Regions from separate parts of the Homo sapiens genome. Here region 2 is linked to region 1. A link means that fine-mapping ties the variant in region 1 to the expression of a gene that starts in the linked region. Tissue or cell type: whole blood. Region 1 holds a variant in brackets; the other region holds the start of a gene. All regions are shown on one strand. Distances are between the middles of the regions.

Evidence for each region. PIP is the estimated chance that this variant, and not a neighbour inherited with it, causes the effect.
Region 2: it holds the start of LINC03016, and the variant in region 1 is fine-mapped to the expression of LINC03016 in whole blood (INTERVAL, PIP 0.97). The same link has a PIP of 0.9 or more in neutrophils.

Annotation. Positions count from the first base shown.
Region 1 is chr7:7,184,411-7,194,342 of GRCh38, forward strand. All of the region lies in intron 1 of C1GALT1 (core 1 synthase, glycoprotein-N-acetylgalactosamine 3-beta-galactosyltransferase 1), which reads left to right. Among named protein-coding and RNA genes, the nearest start is that of C1GALT1, 6.8 kb to the left of the region's middle. The variant T/C (reference allele first, on the strand shown) is at 5,785.
Region 2 is chr7:7,249,486-7,259,417 of GRCh38, forward strand. LINC03016 (long intergenic non-protein coding RNA 3016) reads left to right here and starts at 5,669. Exons shown (of 4, transcript NR_108073.1): 1 at 5,669-5,693.

The DNA of each region.
Region 1 (9,932 bases):
AAAGTTTTTCATAATTATGCTTTTTAAGACTAGACTACGTTGAGTAAATTCAATATCCAGTTATTCTTAAAATTGTATCACAAATTTATTTCAGGGTACACATAATGAGTTCTTGTTTACCTAATAGAAATATGAAAAAGTATGTCACTAGGCACATGCTACTATTTGTGTATTGATTTGTGCTAAAATTAAAATTGCATTATGCAGTTTAACATTATAAGCCATGGTAATTTAGAGTCTTTGTGTGGTAAAATCATTGATTGGAATTTTTGTGACAGTGCAGCTATAAATAAACCTTAAGTAGAAAATGGAAAGCTTGATGCTGAAATTAAATTCAGATAGGCTTAAAAGTTTAAGCTTCCCAATACAACCATCTTTTCTTTTAGAAGATTTCTTAAGATTTGATTAAAGACGCTGATGTACAAACTATAGCAAGGCTGAAAGAAAGGTATGACAAAAATCTTTTTACTTCAAATTCAGTGGGATTAAGTCATTCTTTTAAAAGAAGAAAGGTGGGGAGCGGGAAGGAGACTTGTTCCATAAAATGAGAAGTTAGCCTTTTATCTTAAAATCTGGTTAGAGAGGAACTCCAATGTGTACTTAAATTATTTTGCAGCTAATTCAAATGTCCAAGGGGAATATATATGCCAAAATCTGTAATATGTGAGAATAGGAAGAGGGAGAAAAAAAATATATAAAGAAACTGGTGTTTGTGATTTAGGGAAGCACATAAGAAGGTGGGGGAAACTGAAAGGAAAGTCTAAATAAATTATCTAGCACCTGTAGTATGTGCTGCCTTGCACATTGAAGGGGCGTGTTGGGGGCAACGAGAGGCAATATTAGGGAGATTCTGGAATGGGAAACCTGTATATTAAAGCACATTTAAACGGCTAGATGTTGGATAATAGGCAGAATTTGAAATTAAATACAGCTTGGCATAGTTATTTGCATTCTTGGTCATTGTATTTTCTAGGGCTGCGGTAACAAAATACGACAAACTGGGTGATTTAAAACAACAGATTTATTGTCTCAGTTCTGGAGGCAAGATGTCTGAAATCAAGATGTAGGTATGGCCATGCTCTCTCAAGGTTCGAGGGGAGAATCTGTTCCATGCCTCTTAGCTTGTTGTGTTACTGCCAATCCTTAGCATTTTTTGGCTTGCAGCTATGTCACTCCAGTCTGTGACTCTGTTATCACAACATAATCCCTGTGTGGCTCTGTCTTCAGATGGTGTGCTCCACTTCTTGCAAGGATACTAGTCGTATTGGATTAAGATCCACCCTAATCACCTCATCTTAACTTGATTACATCTGCAAAGACCCTATTTTGAAATAAGGTCACGTGCAGAGGTACTGGAATTAGGACTTCAACCTATCTTTTGTGGGGACACAGTTTAACCTGTAACAGTTGCACGGTTTATCTTTTACATCGTTCAGTAAATGTTTAGCATTATAGACTGAATCAGAGGCTATAGTGGAAACAGGATGGGACACTTACATTTATTTACATATATCAGTGATGTCTTAATCTGTTTTCTGTTGCCTCTAGCAGAATATCTGAAACTGGATAATCTATAAAGAAAAGAAATTTATTCCTTACAGTTAGGAAGGCTGAAAAGTCCTGGTTCAGGGGGCCACATCTGGTGAGGGCATTTGCTGGTAGGGACTCTGCAGAGTCCTGAGGATAGCACAGGGCACCACATGGTGAGGGGGCCGAGCATGCTAGCCCAGAACTCTTTCTTTCTTTCTTTCTTTCTTGTAAAGCTACCAGTTCCTTTCCCATGATAACCCATTCATGAGGGCTGAACCCTTAGTACCCAGTCACCATTTAAAGACTCCAGCTCTCAATACTGCCACAGTGGTGATTAAGGTTCAACATGAGTTTTGGAGGAGACAAACATTCAGACCACAGCAAGTGCTTACTATGTGCCAGGTCCTGGAGATAAAACAGTGGATAGGCAAAAATCTCTGTCCTCATGGAGCTTACATTCTGAAACACGGGTTCTAAAAATGTGGTCCCTGGATCTGCAGCATCATCATCACCTGGGAAGTTGTTAGAAATTGAAATTTTCAGGCTCCATCCCAGAACTCTTTATTTAACTAGCCTTCCAAATGATTCTGATGGAGACTCAGGTTTCAGAACCACTGATCAAGATGGAAAAGAGACAGTAAACAAGATGAATAAGTAAAATAATATTTGATATTAATAGGTGCTGTGGGTAAGCATAGGGTGGCCAGTGAAGACTCCTGAAAAGTAAAGACCTGAAGGAGTTGGAGAGTGAGCCATATGAGCACCTGGGTGCGTGTTCTTAGCAGAGAACAGTTAAGTGTGAAGACCCTGGCACGTTTGAGGAATGACAAGCAGTTAGTATTAGGTTCAATCTATGAAATTGCTGCTGTTTGTTCATTTTTGACCTACAAAAACACCAAATACTGGGGAGAAGAGATCAGAAAGAAAGGGGTGGAGTAGGATGCAGATTGTGGGTAGATCCTTGTAAGGTTTTGGCTCTCTAAGATTAGGAAGACGGGAGGGTTTTGAGCAAATGAGTGATGTGATCTGATTTCAGTTTTAAAAGGATCATTGTGGCTATTGGTAAAAATGGGCCAAAGAAGCAAAGGCTAAAGGAAGGGGAAAGTTGGTTAGAATGTTGTTGGAGTAGTTAAAAGACAGAGAGGTTGCTCAGACCAGGGTGATAGCAGTGGAGAAGTCAGAAGAGGTACAAGACTAAAAACGCACAGTAAATGGTTTGAAAAGTAAGTTTTTTTCATCCCACTCCAGTTACCCAGTTGTCCTCCTCAAAGGCAATTAGTGTTAAAAGTAGTCTTATCTCTATTCTTCCTGAGATTTTTTTTTTTTTGAGACGGAGTCTCACTCTGTCGCCCAGGCTGGAGTGCAGTGGCGCGATCTCAGCTCACTGCAAGCTCTGCCTCCTGGGTTCACGCCATTCTCCTGCCTCAGCCTCCCCAGTAGCTGGGACTACAGGCACCTGCCACCATGCCCAGCTAATTTCTTTTTTTTTTTGTATTTTTAGTAGAGACAGGGGAGATCTTTTATGTAAATGTGAGAAACAGTTTTAACAAATTAGTGGAGAGGTTGTTACCTGGAAACATTTAGCAATGTCTACAGACATTTTTGTTTGTCACAACTAGGGGGAATACTACTGGCATCTAGTGAGTAAAGGCCAGGGATGCTGGCTAAATATCCTACAGAGGACCGGACGGCTTCCACAACAGAGAGTTATCCAGCTCTTAATGTCAGTAGCGCCAAGGTTAAGAAACCTTAGTTTAATGGGATTTACAGAGGTTGGTGGGAAGCAAGTGTTGTAGTCAGAGAAGACAGTAGGAAGAGGAGCTGACCATATTGGGAACCTTTCAGTAACTGTAGACAGTTCAGGATTGCTGAAGCAGACATAAATTATAAGGCACAGAATAGCAAAAGACGAGGCTGGAAACCTGGACAGGCTCTAGGTCATAGCCTTTATTTATATATCATGTTAATAAAAAATGTTTAGTTTTTGTCTTGTAGGCAGTGGAGTTCCGTGAAAGGATTCATGGGGTGACATGGTCAGCTTTTCATTTTAGAGAGCTCATTCTGGTGACGGGGTATGAGTTAAAGAGGGATAGCACTTGAGTCAGAGAGGTTAGATATTGTAATAGCCTGTGGGGAGAGAGGAGAGTCTGAAATAGGATAAATACTAGAAATGGAGAGGAGACAATGGATTAGAATAATATTTAGGAAGTAATGTTGGCAAGACTTGGTAATTGGATTTGGGGTGAAGATAAGGGAAGCATTAAGAATATCTGTGTACTTTGTAGTTTAGATAATCCTGTGGCTCTGAGTGAAATAGGAACCCATTGGTGAATAATTTAGGTAATTACCAGTAATTAAGGTAAAATGAGCAGAGGAAAGTAATGAGTCACTTTGGAGGTGTTGAATTAGAGATGCCTATGGTCCAGGTGGAAGTATTTAGCAGGCATTTGTGTATGTGAATCTGAAACTTGGAGAAGTCTGAAAGGATCAAGAGATCATTTTGTTTGACAAGTGTGGAGAAATTAGTGGACTTTAATTTTTATCATATTATTTCACTCTGTAGATAAAAATTGCCTCCCTTTATTTAATTTTTATCAGAAAAGTAATGTGTGTACCCGATGCAAAATTAAAACATCAAAAGGTTATAAAATAAAAAAAAATTTGTCCTTCCTTGCTCATGCCACCCAGTGCTAGTTCCCAGAGATAGCTCTTGTTAAATATCATATGTATATATATCTTAACAGATTTTAAAATATATACAGAAACATTTAAAAAGCCAAGTGAAATCATACTAGAAAATATTTCGGTACATTGTCTTAAAAAATAAACCTTTTATCTTATACAGTTGTTAAAATGAATGACATTGTGTTATGGATAAAATAAGTGAAGGGGTAAATTAAAGTGCAGACTAACCGATAAGCATGATCTCTGATGTAAATTAAAAGCTGAACATACATATGTGATGATATAGGCATTACCCAACGATACGAAAGCAGTTACTTTTGGGGAGAGATAGTGGTAGAGATGGTAAAGAAAATTTACTCTTTTCTGTCTATGATTTTCTTTCATTTGTTTAGGTTTGTTCCTTTTGTTTTCTTTACATTTTCTGATGTTTAAAAAAATACCCAGTATACCTTATTAACAATAAAAAGTAACCTTTGTCAAAAGCACAAAGATTTTCCCTATCAGCACATGTAGATCATTGTTTTTAACAGCTACTACTATTCTATGCTATGGCTCTATCTTTTTTTTAAAAAACTGGTTCCTCATCAACAGACAGACGTCTTATGGTTATGGCTGTCGAGCATCTTGGCTGACTTCTATGATTATATCTGTAAAATAAGTTTCTGATCATGAAGTGATATATCAAGGCATAATTAGTTAAAAATTTAAAAAGATGTTGTGAAATGCCCTTCCAAAAGACAGTAAAAGTATGTATTATGAGAAAGAATACAGGACTACCAGTTTTCTTGTATCTGTGTCAATAACAGCTGTTAATAAACTTTAAAAGTTTTGCCAATATGTTAGGTTAAAAATAATATCTCTTCATTTGATTTACCTTTGTGAGTGAAATTTGAACATCGTTGACCATTTTTTACTGTGAATCTTTTATTTTCTTTATCTGTTTTTGTATTTGGTTAACTATCTTTTTTATTATTTATGATACTTTTTGGTTCTTTTTGCTGTACATTAAAAAAATATATTTCATAAAGAAATATGCCCTTTAACCAGCGACTTCATTGCCAGAAGTTTATCCAATGAATAAACTCATAGTGTTTTAATAGTCACAGCTTCTGAGTGTGGGAGAGATCTCAATTCGTAATATCAAAATGCAAAAATATATTTTCTTCCAGTTTTGTTTTAATTCCATTTTCTAAAATACTGAAATCTTAGAAACATTTGAAATTGTTACTAGAAAGTAAGGATCCAGCTGGTTTTGTTTTTTTTTCCCCAAAAGATTAATTAATTCAATACCATTTCTTCAATAAGCCACCTTTTTCTTGATTTGAAATGCTGTTTATTATGTATTAAATTTCCACATGAATTTTTGTTTTCCATAGAGTCTTTATTTCAACCTGATGAAGTCCCTTTATAAGATTCATCTGGTAGAGACCACCAGGGACACATCTGTAGGCTGACAAAGGTTAATTAGCTTGCTGCAGTGAAGGAGACTTGCACAGCAGAGGAAATGTCAGCATTTCTAAAGAAGGAACCAGGGTTATTATAGGATTTTGGAGAATGGTGGAGTTTGGA[T/C]AAAGTTTAAACGCAACAATATTTGATAAGCTTAAAGCACGGCAAGACTGTGTGTCAAGGGTTAATAAACATCAGGCCTGGGCTGAGAAGCTGACTCAGGATTCTGATTCCCTGGAGACTACAAAATCGCGATACATGTGGAATGTTGTGTCTGGAAACCCCTTATCTGAAGCTCTGAGTTGCAAAGTGAGGTTGCTTCTGTTTCATAATGATCTACCATCAGTGCGAGAGTGGGATGTTCCATTCTCACTTTATAAAATTTCAAATAACATAGTTTCTGACAGTCTGATGTAGAGAACAGTTTCTCAGCACATTGTCTTTAGTATTAACAAATGCATTTTTTTAAACAGACTGAGAGTTTGTTCAGCATAAATACCAAATTGTTTTCATTACCTTTTTTAAGGTAATATATTTTTATATGTAGTAAACTTTGTCTCTTCCCCTTCCCCAGTTCCCCTTTCAAGAGTTTTCCAGTGATACTCACCTATTTTTCCAGATAACATTTAGAATAATTTTTGCCACATTAATTTTTTAAAATCTTTTTTATAACTTAAAATTGATCAGATCAGATTAGTACACCCCTTCCCACAATGCCCCTTTCCAGAATTTCCCAGTTACACCCACATGTTTATTGGTCCAAAGTTTTAGAATACTTTTTGCCAAGTTATATAATTTTTTAAAATCTTCCTGTGTTTTAGCTGGGATTACTTTACATACAGGTTAATTCGGAGGAAATCAACATCATTATCATTGATACCTTTTTTTTTCCAAACTTTTTAAAATTTTGGTAAAATACATACAAAGTTTACCATCATAATCATTTTTAAGTTTATAGATCAGTGGTATTAACTACATTTATATTGTTGTGCAACCATCACCGCTGTTTATCTCCAGAACTCTTTATTTTGTAAAACTGAAGCTCTATATCCGTTTAAACGATAGCTCTCCATTCTCACCTTTCCACAGGCCCTGGAAACCAAAAGCCTACTCTGTCTCTGATTTTTCACTACTTTAAAGTACTTCATGTAGGTGGAATTGTGCATTATTTGTCCTTTTGTGATTGGCTTATTTCATTTAGCAAAATGTCCTCAAGATTCATTCATTTTGTAGCATATATCAGAATTTCCTTACTTTTCAAGGCTGAATACTATTCCATTGTATGTAAATACATTTTGCTTGTTCATTCATCCTCAGTGAACACGTGGTTTGCTTCACATTTTAGCTCTTGTGAATACTGCTGCAATGACCATGAGTGTACAAATACTTTCTTGAAACCCTGCTCTCATTGGGTATATATCCAGAAGTGGAATTGCTGGATCATATGGTAATTCTATTTTTAATTTTTTGAGGAATTTTCATACTGTTTTCCATAGCAGAAATAACATTTTACTTTCATACCAATAGTATACAAGGGTTCCAGTTTCTCCACATTCTCTTCAACACTTAACAATTTTCTGAATTTTGATGGTAACCATTGTTATGGGTATAAGGTAGCATCTCATTGTAGTCTTGATTTGTTTTGCTAATGATTAGAGATGTTGAGTATCTTTTCATCTGTTTATTGGCCATTTGTGTATCTTAGGAGAAATGTGTATTTGAGTCTTTTGCACATTGTTGAATCAGGTTGATTTTTTTTGTTTGAGTTTTAGGAATTTTCTATATATTTTGGATACTAATCTCTTATCAGATAATACGATTTGCCTGTATTTTCACCCATTCTGTGGCTTGCCTTTTACTGTTGATAGGGTCTTCTGGTGCACAAATTTAAAAATTTTTCATCAAATCTAATTTGCCAATATTTTCTTTCAGTGACTCTGCCTTTGTTGTCACATCCAAGAAATCATTGCCAAATATAATGTCATGAAGCTCTTTTGTTCAATGTTCTAAGAATTTTATAGTTTTAGGTCTTATATTTAGGTCTTTGATCCATTTTGAGTTACTTTTTCTTCTTTTTTTTTTATTTCAATAGGCTTTTGGGGAACAGGTGGTGTTGGGTTACATGGATATGTTTTTTGGTAATGATTTTTGAGATTTGGGTGCACCCCTCACCCAAGCAGTGTACACAGTACCCAATGTGTAGTCATTTATCCCTCACCCCCTCCCACCCTTTACTTCAAGTTCCCAAAGTCCATTGTATCATTCTATGCCTTTGCATCCTCATAGCTTAGTTCCCATTTATGAGTGACAACTTACAATGTTTGGTTTTCCATTCCTGAGTTACTTTACTTAGAATAATGGTCTCCACCTCCATCCAGGTTGCTGTGAATGCCATTATTTCATTATTTTTTATGGCTGAGTAGTATTCCGTGGTGTGTGTGTGTGTATATTATACATACCACATTTTCTTTATCCACTTGTTGATTGATGGGCATTTGGGTTGATTCCATATTTTTGCAGTTACAAATTGTGTTGCTATAAATGTGTGTTCAAGTGTGTTTTTCGTATAATGACTTCTTTTTCTCTGGGTAGATACCCAGTAGTGGGATTGCTGGGTCAAATGTTAGATCTACTTTTGGTTCCTTAAGGAATCTCCACACCATTTTCCATAGTGGTTATACTAGTTTACATTCCCAGCAGCAGTGTAAAAGTTTTCCCTTTTTACCACATTGATGCCAACATCTATTATTTTTTGATTTTTTGATTATGGCCATTCTTGCAGGAGTAAGGTGGTATTGCATTGTGGTTTTGATTTGCATTTCCCTGATAATTAGTTGTGTTGAACATGTTTTCATATGTTTGTTGAACACTTGTATATCTTCTTTTGGGAATTGTCTATTCATGTCCTTAGCCCACTTTTTGATGGGATTGTTTGTTTTTTTTCTTGCTGATTTGTTTGGTTTTTTTGTAGATTCTGGATATTAGACCTTTGTCAGATGCATAGTTTACCAAGATTTTCTCCACTCTGTGGGTTGTCTGTTTACTGATTATTTCCTTTGCTGTGCAGAATCTTTTTAGTTTAATTAAGTCCCATCTATTTGTCTTTGTTTTTGTTGAATTTGTTTTTGGGTTCATGGTCAGGAAGTCTTTGCCTAAGCCAATGTCTAGAAGGGTTTTTCTGATGATATCTTCTGGGACTTTTATGGTTTCAGGTCTTAAAAGATTTAAGTCTTTGATCTAATCTTGAGTTCATTTTTGTGTAAGGTGAGAGATGAGGATCCAGTTTCATTCTTCTACATGTGGCTTGCCAGTTACCCCAGTACCATCTGTTGAATAGGGTGTCCTTTCCCCACTTTACGTTTGTGTTTGCTTTGTCAAAGATCAGTTGGCTGTTAAGTATTTGGCTTTATTTCTGGGTTCTGTATTCTGTTTCATTGGTCTATGTGCCTATTTTTATACCAGTACCATGCTGTTTCGGTAACTATAGCCTTTTAGTTTAGTTTGAAGTCGGGTAATGTGATACATCCAGATTTGTGGGTTTTGGGGGGTTGTTTTTGTTTTTGCTGAGTCTTGATTTGGCTATGTGTGTTCCTTTTCAGTTTCATATGAATTTTAGGATTGTTCTCCCTAGCTCTGCAAAGAATGATGGTGACATTTTGATAGGAATTACATTGAATCCGTAGATTGCTTTTGGCAGTATGATCATTTTCACAATATTGATTCTACCCATCCATGAGCATGGAATGTGTTTCCATTTGTTTGTGTCATTTTCAATTTCTTTCAGCAGTGTTTTGTAGTTTTTCTTGTAGATGTCTTTCACTTCCTTAGGTATATTCCTAAGTATTTTATTTTTTTTTTGCAGACATAGTAAAAGAGTTTGAGTTCTTGATTTGATTTGCAGCTTGGTTGCTGTTAGTGTATAGCAATGCCACCGATTTGTGTACATTAATTTTGTGTCCTGAAACTTTACTGAATTCATTTGCCAGTTCTAGGAGCTTTTTGGATGAATCTTTAGGGTTTTCTTGGTGTATGATCATATCATCAGCAAACAGCAACAGTTCGACTTCCTCTTTACTGATTTGATGCCCTTTATTTCCTTGTCTTGTCTGATCCCTCTGGCTAGGACTTCCAGTACTATGTTGAATAGAAGTAGTGAGACTGGGCATCCCTGTCTTGTTCCAGATCTCAGGGGAAATGCTTTCAACCTTTCTCCATTCAGTATAATGTTAGCTGTAGGTTTGTCATAGATGGCTTTTATTACCTTAAGGCAT
Region 2 (9,932 bases), 65 kb after region 1:
CCCTTGAGTCTAGCCTATATGTCTTGATTTTTCAGTAATCTGCTACCCAGTATGTTATTAGCATGTGTGTGTGCACACGCAAGCATGCATACACACTGTTATTTGGATTAGACAGCTTTAGAAAAGCTGAGGAGATAAATACCACTTCATACTACTTTAGTAGTAGAGTTGTATAATTTAACATATTCAGACAGCTAAATATTTTCCAACCAGCTGTACTGATAATTGTTAAGTCATTGGAAAGTAGATATATTTACCTAAATATATACAATTAAACCTATTTTAAGTTTTCCAAAGGTATGACTTCATAGTACTGGAAAGCATACAAGAAGATTCTTGCTGAATTTATCTCCTTGTTAAAGGGAAGTACTCTACAGAGCTCAACATAGTGGTCGTCTTAAAGTCTAATAATGCTGACAATATGGATTGTTCAAGGGAAATTTTTTTAGTGGTTAAGAATGAACTAACATTTAACTACTAAAGTTGAATGAGTTCAGCAACATTGGCATTCTCCAGATGCATCTGTATTAGTAAAACAGAAGTGAACTTTGTTTTGCCATGAGTTTATTACTAATTAACGCATTTTGTATTGCTGCCTAGAACTTAAAACTGTCTCTGTGTTGCATTTCTTCTACAAAATGTGCTAGTGTTTCTTGTATTATTATCAATATTGCTTTTCTCCAGGACTGAAAATTTGTCCAGGGCATTATATACTTTCTTATATATTGCCCCTGTATAGTGCAGGTTAATACAACAGCTTACTTTGAAATAACAAAATACTCATATTTTAAAAAATGAGATTCAATCCTAGAACTTAGGCTCTTTGGCTTTTCTAATGAATGCCTAGTGAAAGATTAACAGTACTTCATTTCTAGAACTGCCGAATGATGTGCTATCGTAGAACTAATTTGGGTACAGTGTCTTCATTTTTACAACTAATCAGTTTTTGACTTTCATAAGCTTCAATTTTTTTTCATAGAACTACCTAAACTGCATTGTCTCCCCTTCTATACCTCTAACAGTTCATTCTTATTAATTTTCTTGTCTAATTGTTAGATTGTGGAAAGGTGGTGATAAAATCCAGAACATAGGTTTGGAAGAGAAGTAATATGCAACTTTTCCTTTAGTTCTACACATGACTCTCTTCCTTGTTTTTATACTTTTTGGTGGGGTGTGGGTAGGTGAGTGTGGGTATGTATATGTCAGAGACAAAGAAAAAGGATGGTTATGATTATATTTTAATAACTGGATTTTTAATGTAATTGAAGTATTAAAACCACTGCATTTTCATGTTGATTAGGTTTATATAATAAGTGGTTTATTTGATGAAGTGAAGGTAACTATGTGTTTAGAATAATTGGCCACAGATATAATTCCTGATTTTTAAAGTAATTTTTACAAACCTACTTGCCTGACGGAATTTCTCTCTTTTTTGGCCTTTGAATTTATAGCTCTTGGAACCTTCTCCTACTCATCTCTCATTCCATGTTTTTTTCTTTTACCCTTTCTTTTTCTTCTGATTGGCAGCAGCAAGTCTTTAGTTTCTTAAGACTTTTTATTGCCCCCATTCTTTTTTTTTTTTTTTAAGTAGGGACAGGGTCATATTGTGTTGCCCAGGCTGGTCTTTAAACAGTTTGGCCTCCCAGAGTGTTGGGATTATATGCATGAGCCACCATGCCCGGCTGCCTCTATTTTCTATCAAAATGGATGTGTTTAAGACTTTTTAAAAAATTGTGTATCTTTTGTGAACCTCAGTTCCCTCTCACCAGCCTAGAAGTTGCTGAAAGAAAGAAGAGATAGCACTCAAAGAATCGATGCCCACATTATCCTGCAGTTTCCTCTTTCTTAAGGAAATGTTTCCTTCTAGAACCTACTCAGTGAAAATATGGGTGCTTAAATACCTGAAAACCAGTGGGGAGAAAAACTTAATCTTTATAGATAAAAGATTTCAGTGTTCAGTATTAAGGCAGTCCTCTCTCACATCTTAAAAATGGTCACTATGACCTGTTGAATAAAATGAATATAACCTCAGATTATGTGACCTTCCACAGCCTGACCTAGCATGTATTCCCTTTTTAAAAAATTGCTATTCCTTACCTAAACGCCAGACAATTTAGCTCCAAATCATTTAACCAACATTTGAGTGCCTACTAAAAGTATTGAGCTAGATAATAGGGATAAAGTGGCAAATTATATTTGTTGCTGTCAAGGAACTCACCTTCTATTAGAAGCAAAGTACCCAAAAAAGTAGTTGTGTGCAGTAGAGTTATACTCTCAGGCAGTGTGCTAATTGTTTTACATTGCATTATCCCATGTAATTCTTACTACAATCCTGGTGGATGGATTATACTATCCACTGTTTCAGGCTTCTACTGGGGATCTTGGTATGTATCCCCCCGTGGTTAAGGGGGAACTACTGTATTTTGTTAACCTCCAGCACTTTACACAAAAGGGGAACTGAAAGTACCAGATGCTACATAGAAGAAAGAATGGAGTGTGTGAAGCAAGAGACTCTTCTCGAAAGGGGCCAATTTAAATCATTTCATTTCCATATGCAGCCATAACCATGTAAAAACTTCCATCCACATCATTCAATGGCTTTTATACTCTTAATTCATATTGCTAAGAAAACTTCTGGCTTATTCTTCTTGTTAAAGTTTATGAAGTGTCCTGATATGGAGGGGGGAAAATGCCATTTCTATGACATAAGCCCATTAACCCACCCAAGTTGTCAGAATCAAGAGGAGGTGTTTGAGAAATTGTTTCCTCTTTTTAAACATTTAACATTTTTCTTTTGTGTTAGTTTTTCTTCAAAACGTACAAAAAAGTACGCATCATTGTATCTTGTGTATTTACTACCAGCTTTTACTAGATAAGTCATCTTTCCATTGAAAAAGTGATAAGCTCCATTATTTTAAAAAAAACTTAAACATTCATTGCAGATGACCATTTCAAAGATGAAAATTTTTAAAGGACCCCAAACCCCACCACCCCCCAAAGTAATTCCAATTAATGCATAAATATAAATTGGATAGGAAGCTAAATAGATAGAAATGGTTTTATTAAAGTGAGATCGTGTAACAAATGCTAATTTTAACATTATAATTTCAAAAAAATACAGTTGCTCTTGATGTGGCCAAAATCTGCAAATTGTCCTGGGGGCAGGGAGAGGGGAATGTCATCTTAGCAGCAACAAAATTGAGTGATTTCTTTGGGAGGGGGAGATGGAGAGAGGAAGAACGGACTGGACTTAGGCTTCTCTGTAGCAACATTCAGTGCTAAAGCAGAGTGAAGCAAACTCTACCAGATTCTTGGGGGAGGAAGAAGCCAAGTGATTTCAAATGGAAGGGTAAATTGAAAGAGTGAGGGTGGACACTTCTTGAAAAATCTAGATGATGAAGCCCATCTAAAGAGATAAATGGACAAACATTGAGAACAGGACTGGTGGTGGTTAATTATTTAACTATGTAGCTATAGAATTATTTAAATAAGGCTATGGAAGCATATTGAAATGTTATAAATCTTGATATAGAAAAGATGATTAACAAGTTAGAAAATAGAATATCAAAGACGAGGTAATATATACATGCCCTAATTGGTTTTACTTTTCAGAATAGAAATTTTGTAAAATTGATAATATATCAAGAAATAGGGATGTAATATTCTGAATAGTTATGAAGGTAATCACCAAAACTGTAAGCCTGATAACTATTAAAATGAAAACACAAAATTAAAGATAACACAGGCCATATAAGAGAGCTAAAGGGAGAATTTACAATAGATGACAGAATTAAGACCAAACATAGATATGATGTCAAATAAGGAAAAATATGATTTAACTTATAAATGTATGAATATACAAAAACTGTTGGCAGTACCTTTGGGGAAGGGTACTAGGATTGGAAAGAAATTCAATAATTCACTGTTTTCCTTTTTGAACTTTTAAAAAATCATGTTTATACTGTCACAGTTTAGAGAAGTAAAGTGGGAAAAAAAAGCTGTTGGCCCTGGCTCCCTAGGGTTTTTACAACCAGTGGTGAAGAATGTCCACAGACATTCTTAAGCAGCAGTAGAGGTAAGCAGGTACACACATGAGCTGGAAAGATCTCAAAGCTGATTTGGATTCTTTTATCTTGCCATAAGAAATTACTTTCTTCAATCAAGGGTATAAAGACTGCTGAACTAGTTCATAATGAGGGTAGATGAAGGAGGTATCCATCTTCAAGAGTGGTAAATAGTTGACCCATACAAAGGACCAGCAGCCTCATGTGGACCCGTCTTAGCATCCTTCTCTCCTTCTACTCCAAGGGTGAAGAGTACTCGGAAGTTACTATTTATTCTCAAATCCTTGTGTCAGATTATTTTCATATCTTTCTTAGATCTGTTCTGGCTTAAGTCTTATTCTCTTATTCATGGAAATAGAAGACACTGAGCCCTTTCCCACATAAAAATATAGGACTACTGATTTCTAGAGCTTAAAGATGTTCTAACGCCTCGTTTGAAAGATTCAGAAACAGATCTAGAGATGTTAAAGTTTAGAAAAATGACACAAATAATGCCAGAAGTGGCAACAGAACTCAATTTTCCTGACTCCCAGGTTAGTGGTCTTTGTACTAAATGCAATTTCTTATCTTCCCTGAACAACCTGAGCTATGTACTTTAACAAAATTTTTTGTGGGTACATAGTAGGTGTACGTATTTATAGGGTTCATGAGACACTTTGATACAGCCATGCAACAAGTAATAATCACATCATAGAAAATGGAGTATCCATCCCCTCAAATATTTATCCTTTGTGTTACAAACAATCCAATTATACTCTTTTAGTTATTTTTAAATACACAATTAAATTATTGACTATAGTCACCCTATTGTGCTATCAAATACTAGATCTTATTCATTCTTTCTGTTTTTCTTTGACCCATTGTACTGCTAGATAGAACTCACATATTTGGTCCCTGCCTTTTCCCACCATTTGCAAATAGATTCTAGGAACGATCCTAATAGTTGCCAGGCACTGTTATCAGAGATCAAATCTGTCTTGTTTCCAATTGTGCCTGGGACATAATAGGATTTTTTTTTTTAAATAACAAAGCCATGTGTAGTGCTGCATGCCTGTTGTCCTAGCTACCCAGAAGGCTGAAGCTCAGGAGTTCAAGTCCACCCTGGGCAACAAGACTCCATCTCCACAACAAAAAAGTTTAAAAAGGTTACTATACGATTACTATACATTGTATGTATCAAAATATTACTCTCTCCCCCATAAATATGTACATTATATATCAATTAAAAGGAAGTAAATGGTGAGCATCCTTTCACTATGAAGAAAAGTTCTCCATATGCCCCCTACTTTCTTCTGTTTCATTTTTATGGAGACCTCTAAACAAAATGCTTTTCTCATAGATATGGAGGGACTCCTAAACAGGTTTTCTGCTTGAGAAAATCTTGATTTGAACTCCACGTATCATACACCATCAGGCAAAAAACCTCGCATTTACGTTGGAGAATACAGTCCAGAAAAAGAACAAAACCTCAAGTGTGGGCAGAAGATTGTGTGTATTTGCTATTAGGGAGGAGAGCTCAGGTTCCTTTTCTCTACAGTGACCATTAGACATTCCAAAGCACTGTCACTTGGTGTAGCTCAGTGCTCTTGGTTACTGAAGCAACAAGTGATCTCTGATGACAAAACAAAGGTAGGGTCGTGCCTAACACTGGTAAGGAGAAAACTGTGTCGAGTTAGTTAATAATTAATTTACATGTCAAGTTACAAGTTTTCTATCCTAAAATCCAAAAAAAGCAACAGCTCTTTTTTTTCCTCCAGTCATTAAATCACCCATTCAACAAACTTTCACCAGGCTCATGGTTTGTCAGCTATAGAAGAGAAAGGAGGGCGAAACCTGTGGTTAAGGCTTGCCTGAAGGATCTCACATTTGGGTTGGGGGCTGACATGCCAGTGAACAAATAGCCTCCTCAGGACTATGATAGAGGTATTTACAAAGAACTATAAGAGGACTGTATATTAAGTGTTTAGGGATCTGAGAAGTTTCAAAGAAATTGTGGCATTTGAACTGGATTTAAAGAATAAGGCTCAGGTACAACTTCATGTGAAAGAGTCGATATATTCACAAATTTGCCAAAGCCCAGTTAACTTCAATTCTTCGAGAGTTCCAGTTTTTTCCCAGGTGCAGTCAGTGTACCATTTTTTTCTGAGACCCACAGCCATTTTCTTTCATTGGCATGTTTTTAGGTTTATTTTTCAATAACTCCAGTACCCCTGAAATTTCCTTCCTTAGATCTTGAATAAATATATTCAAGTTGGGCATTACTGCATGGTTTGAGGATAATGTCTTTCCTGTTAAAAATATTTTTAAGTTTTTATACAAAGGTAATGTATGTGCTTGGTAAAAGAGAATGAATATAAAATGAAAAGCTATAATCTGCTACAGCCCCACCCAGCAGTCCCTTTGTCCAGCCATAAACAGAAAATAACAGAACTGTACTCATTTCCAAACTAAACACATCATTCTGCTCCTTGCCTTTTCTGCTTACTGTTTAATAACTTAGAGATAATTCTTTTTAATAGTTAACTAGATCTCTGTATGGATGTGCCACAATTTTTAAGCCATTCCTCTATTGATAATTGAGTTGGATACTTTTATTATAATTATTGCTGCACTGAACATCCTTGAAATGATTGTGTGGGTACAGCCATAGGATAAGTTCCTAGCAAGTAATTGCTGAGATAAAGAATGTATGCATTTAAATATTCATAGATACTGCCAAATTGCCTTCTTAAACTGTACTGTACTACCTTATACTACTACTCAACATTTGCGAGTATATTTTCCTGCCCCTTTTACCAAAGTTTTTGATTATTGAACTTACTAGTTTTATCACTGCATTAATATCTGATAATTGTTGATTTGTACTTAAGGTTTGAGTTTTTTTTATACATTGGTAATTTGCATTTCATCTTCGCCAGTTTTTAATATTGAATTACTAGGGTTTTTAAAAATTTTTATAAACTCTCTGAATATTGGTTTATTTATATGTATTAGAACTGTTATGATTATTTCGTACTTGTTTTTTCCCCACACAAACCAATTAATCTTTTCTTAGGGCTATTGAATTGTGTGTCTTGCTCACACCAAGGTTTATTTATAATATGCTTATGTTTTCCTCTTACTTTCATAGTTTCATTTTTTGTGTTTATATTTTTGATCCCTCCAGAATTTATTTTCTTATATGGAGTGAGGTAGGAAAATGGCTACCCGTTTGTTGTAATACACTTTATTTGACGATCCTTTCTTTCAACATTTATTTTAAATCACCATTACCCCATGATATTTCATTATCGGTTTGTGTATAAACTGTATTCTGGTCTGCTTATCTGCCTATTTCTTGTGCAGTACATTGTTTTAATGATTTCAGATTCATAACACTTAATAACTGACAGAATGAATTACCTACTTAAACATTTCGTACAGACACTGTGGTGGATTCTGCTACATATCATGGCATTATGCCATGAATGCTTTCCAGCATTACTGGCAGAAATAGCCACCCTTAAAATATGCCCCTCGTGATCCTCAGCGGTTCCCAGGGTACAGTGTAATGTGTACCCAGAAATGGGTTGCCCTCTTGCCCATTCCTGGGCTGCCTCCTAGGGACAGTGACTCCAGTTAACTTGCTGCTTCAGTGGGCACTACCATCTTCTGCTGGTGACTTCTGTCATCTTGTTTGACCCTGGGGAAAAGACTTATTTTCCTCTTTGTTGCCCACAGTAGAGACCAGACTTTCCTGACCGTTCCAGAATAATGAAAGAAAGGGTCCAGATAGTACTTTATGAGAGCGGCCAAGCTCCAGTGGAATCCTCTCCACCCTTACCAGGCTACTGCTCTGCCCTCTTTGCTACCTGTTTCCAGGTCACCAAAGGTAGTTCAGCTACCCCACTAGAAACCTTCAGTTATCAGCACTTCTTTAGAATTGGAGCCAAATTGACATCTGCACTAAAAGAAATGAGGAAGGTTTCCACTCACCTAACACTCTGGACACCCTCCTCCCAAAATTCCTGCTGAACCAACCTCTCCCCTGGGAAACTGGCAGTGAAAACATTTAGTCTTTTCAGAGGAAATTACACCTTTACTCAGAGAAACGTGGTCTGGATTTTGGATCTGCAGCCCCAGTAAGAGAATTGCCTAATGATCTGGTATCAGTTAGTACAATCAGGCCCTTCATATCTGTGGGTTCCACATCCATGAATTCAGCCAATCGTGGATCAAAAATATTCAATAAAAAATAATATGACAAAAATATAAACAATACAGTATAACTGTTATTTCCATAGCATTCGTATTAGGTATTATAGAGATGATTTAAAGTATGCAAGAGGATAAGCATAGGTTATATGCAAATACTATACCATTTTATATAAGAGATTTAAACATCCATGGGTTTTGGTATCAGAGGGGGTCCTGGAACCAGTACCCCAAGGATACTGAGGGACGACTGTCTATTTCGCAGTCTGTATTGTTTTTACAAGTGGGGCAGCAACAACCAAACCCAAATGAGGCCGCATCAGGCTCAGCCCTGTTCCTATTTTGTCTCCCTGCACTAAGGGTTTCAAGCATGTCTTAGGGCTGTGGTCAGCTTGTTAACACAAATCAGCCTTGAAACCTAACAGAATGTTACTTTACAATTTCCTGTTACTATGTTCCTTTTTAAAGTAAGCTACTTCCAAATCGATCTTCATCCTTTTCAAAATACCAAATTTCGGAAATGGAAGGGGGAAAGGAATGGGGGAAATACAAAGTGAAATCACCTGTATTTTCTTAGGGACCCTAACTTAGACATGACCAGCTATTTCTGAGATTCTTAAGTAAACTGTTTTTTCTCTCTGAAAGTCTGACAGTCTCTGCCATGTCAAGCTCTTTATTTCATGTCTTATACTTAGACCCACTCAGGCTACTTGGACAAATGCTCAAATAAGTTGACCAAATGAAAAACGTGTTCAGAGGTTGAGTGACTCAGAGTGAGAACAAGTGAAGCAGAACTGAGTGGTGGAACTTAACCTGCGCCTGAAGTTTTGAAACACATCAAGTCTAGTCTTCTGTATTTTAATAATATACAGACTTAGAGGGTGGAAAGAGATAAAGTGTTATGTGCTCATAAAATCAATTTATAAGTGACCTCATAGGGTCAATCACCTCAAGATAATATAAATTCATGATTTAATATATTAATGTAACCTTTGCTATGTATTAATCAGTATAAATTTATAATTCAGTAGTCTACAAATCCTAAACTTAGAGAATATTTTCTGAATTTGCTCTTTGATTACTCCACGTCTCTGCATAGAATTTTCTGACACTCACTCATCAGGATGTGTTTATAAAGGGTTTTCTTTCTTCCTCTTCACATTTAAATGATATAGAATTACCCAAACTTCCTGTTGCTACTGAAACTGAAGCAAGAGAAGCAAGGGAAATTGAAACTGAAAATGTGAACCAGCGACTTTACCCAGAAGCACAGTTGATGGCATCAATGAGATCAATTTTTTAATGAAATTAAAGAAAGTAGAGGTTTCAGCTGACACTGTTTTTCTCCAGACTCTCTACTATGCGGCAGGATGGTAGTTGTTTCCTCTCAACGGAGCTAAAAATTAACTTCATCCTATGGCATGATGTATTAAAATCAGGAGTGTTTGGCCCGGCGTGGTGGCTCACGCGTGTAATCCCAGCACTTTGGGAGGCCGAGGTGGGCGGCTCACGAGGTCAGGATATCACGACCATCCTGGCTAACACGGTGAAACCCCGTCTCTACTAAGAATACAAAAAAAAAAAAAAAAAATTAGCCGGGCGCGGTGGCGGGCGCCTGTAGTCCCAGCTACTCAGGAGGCTGAAGGAGGAGAATGCTGCGAACCTGGGAGGCGG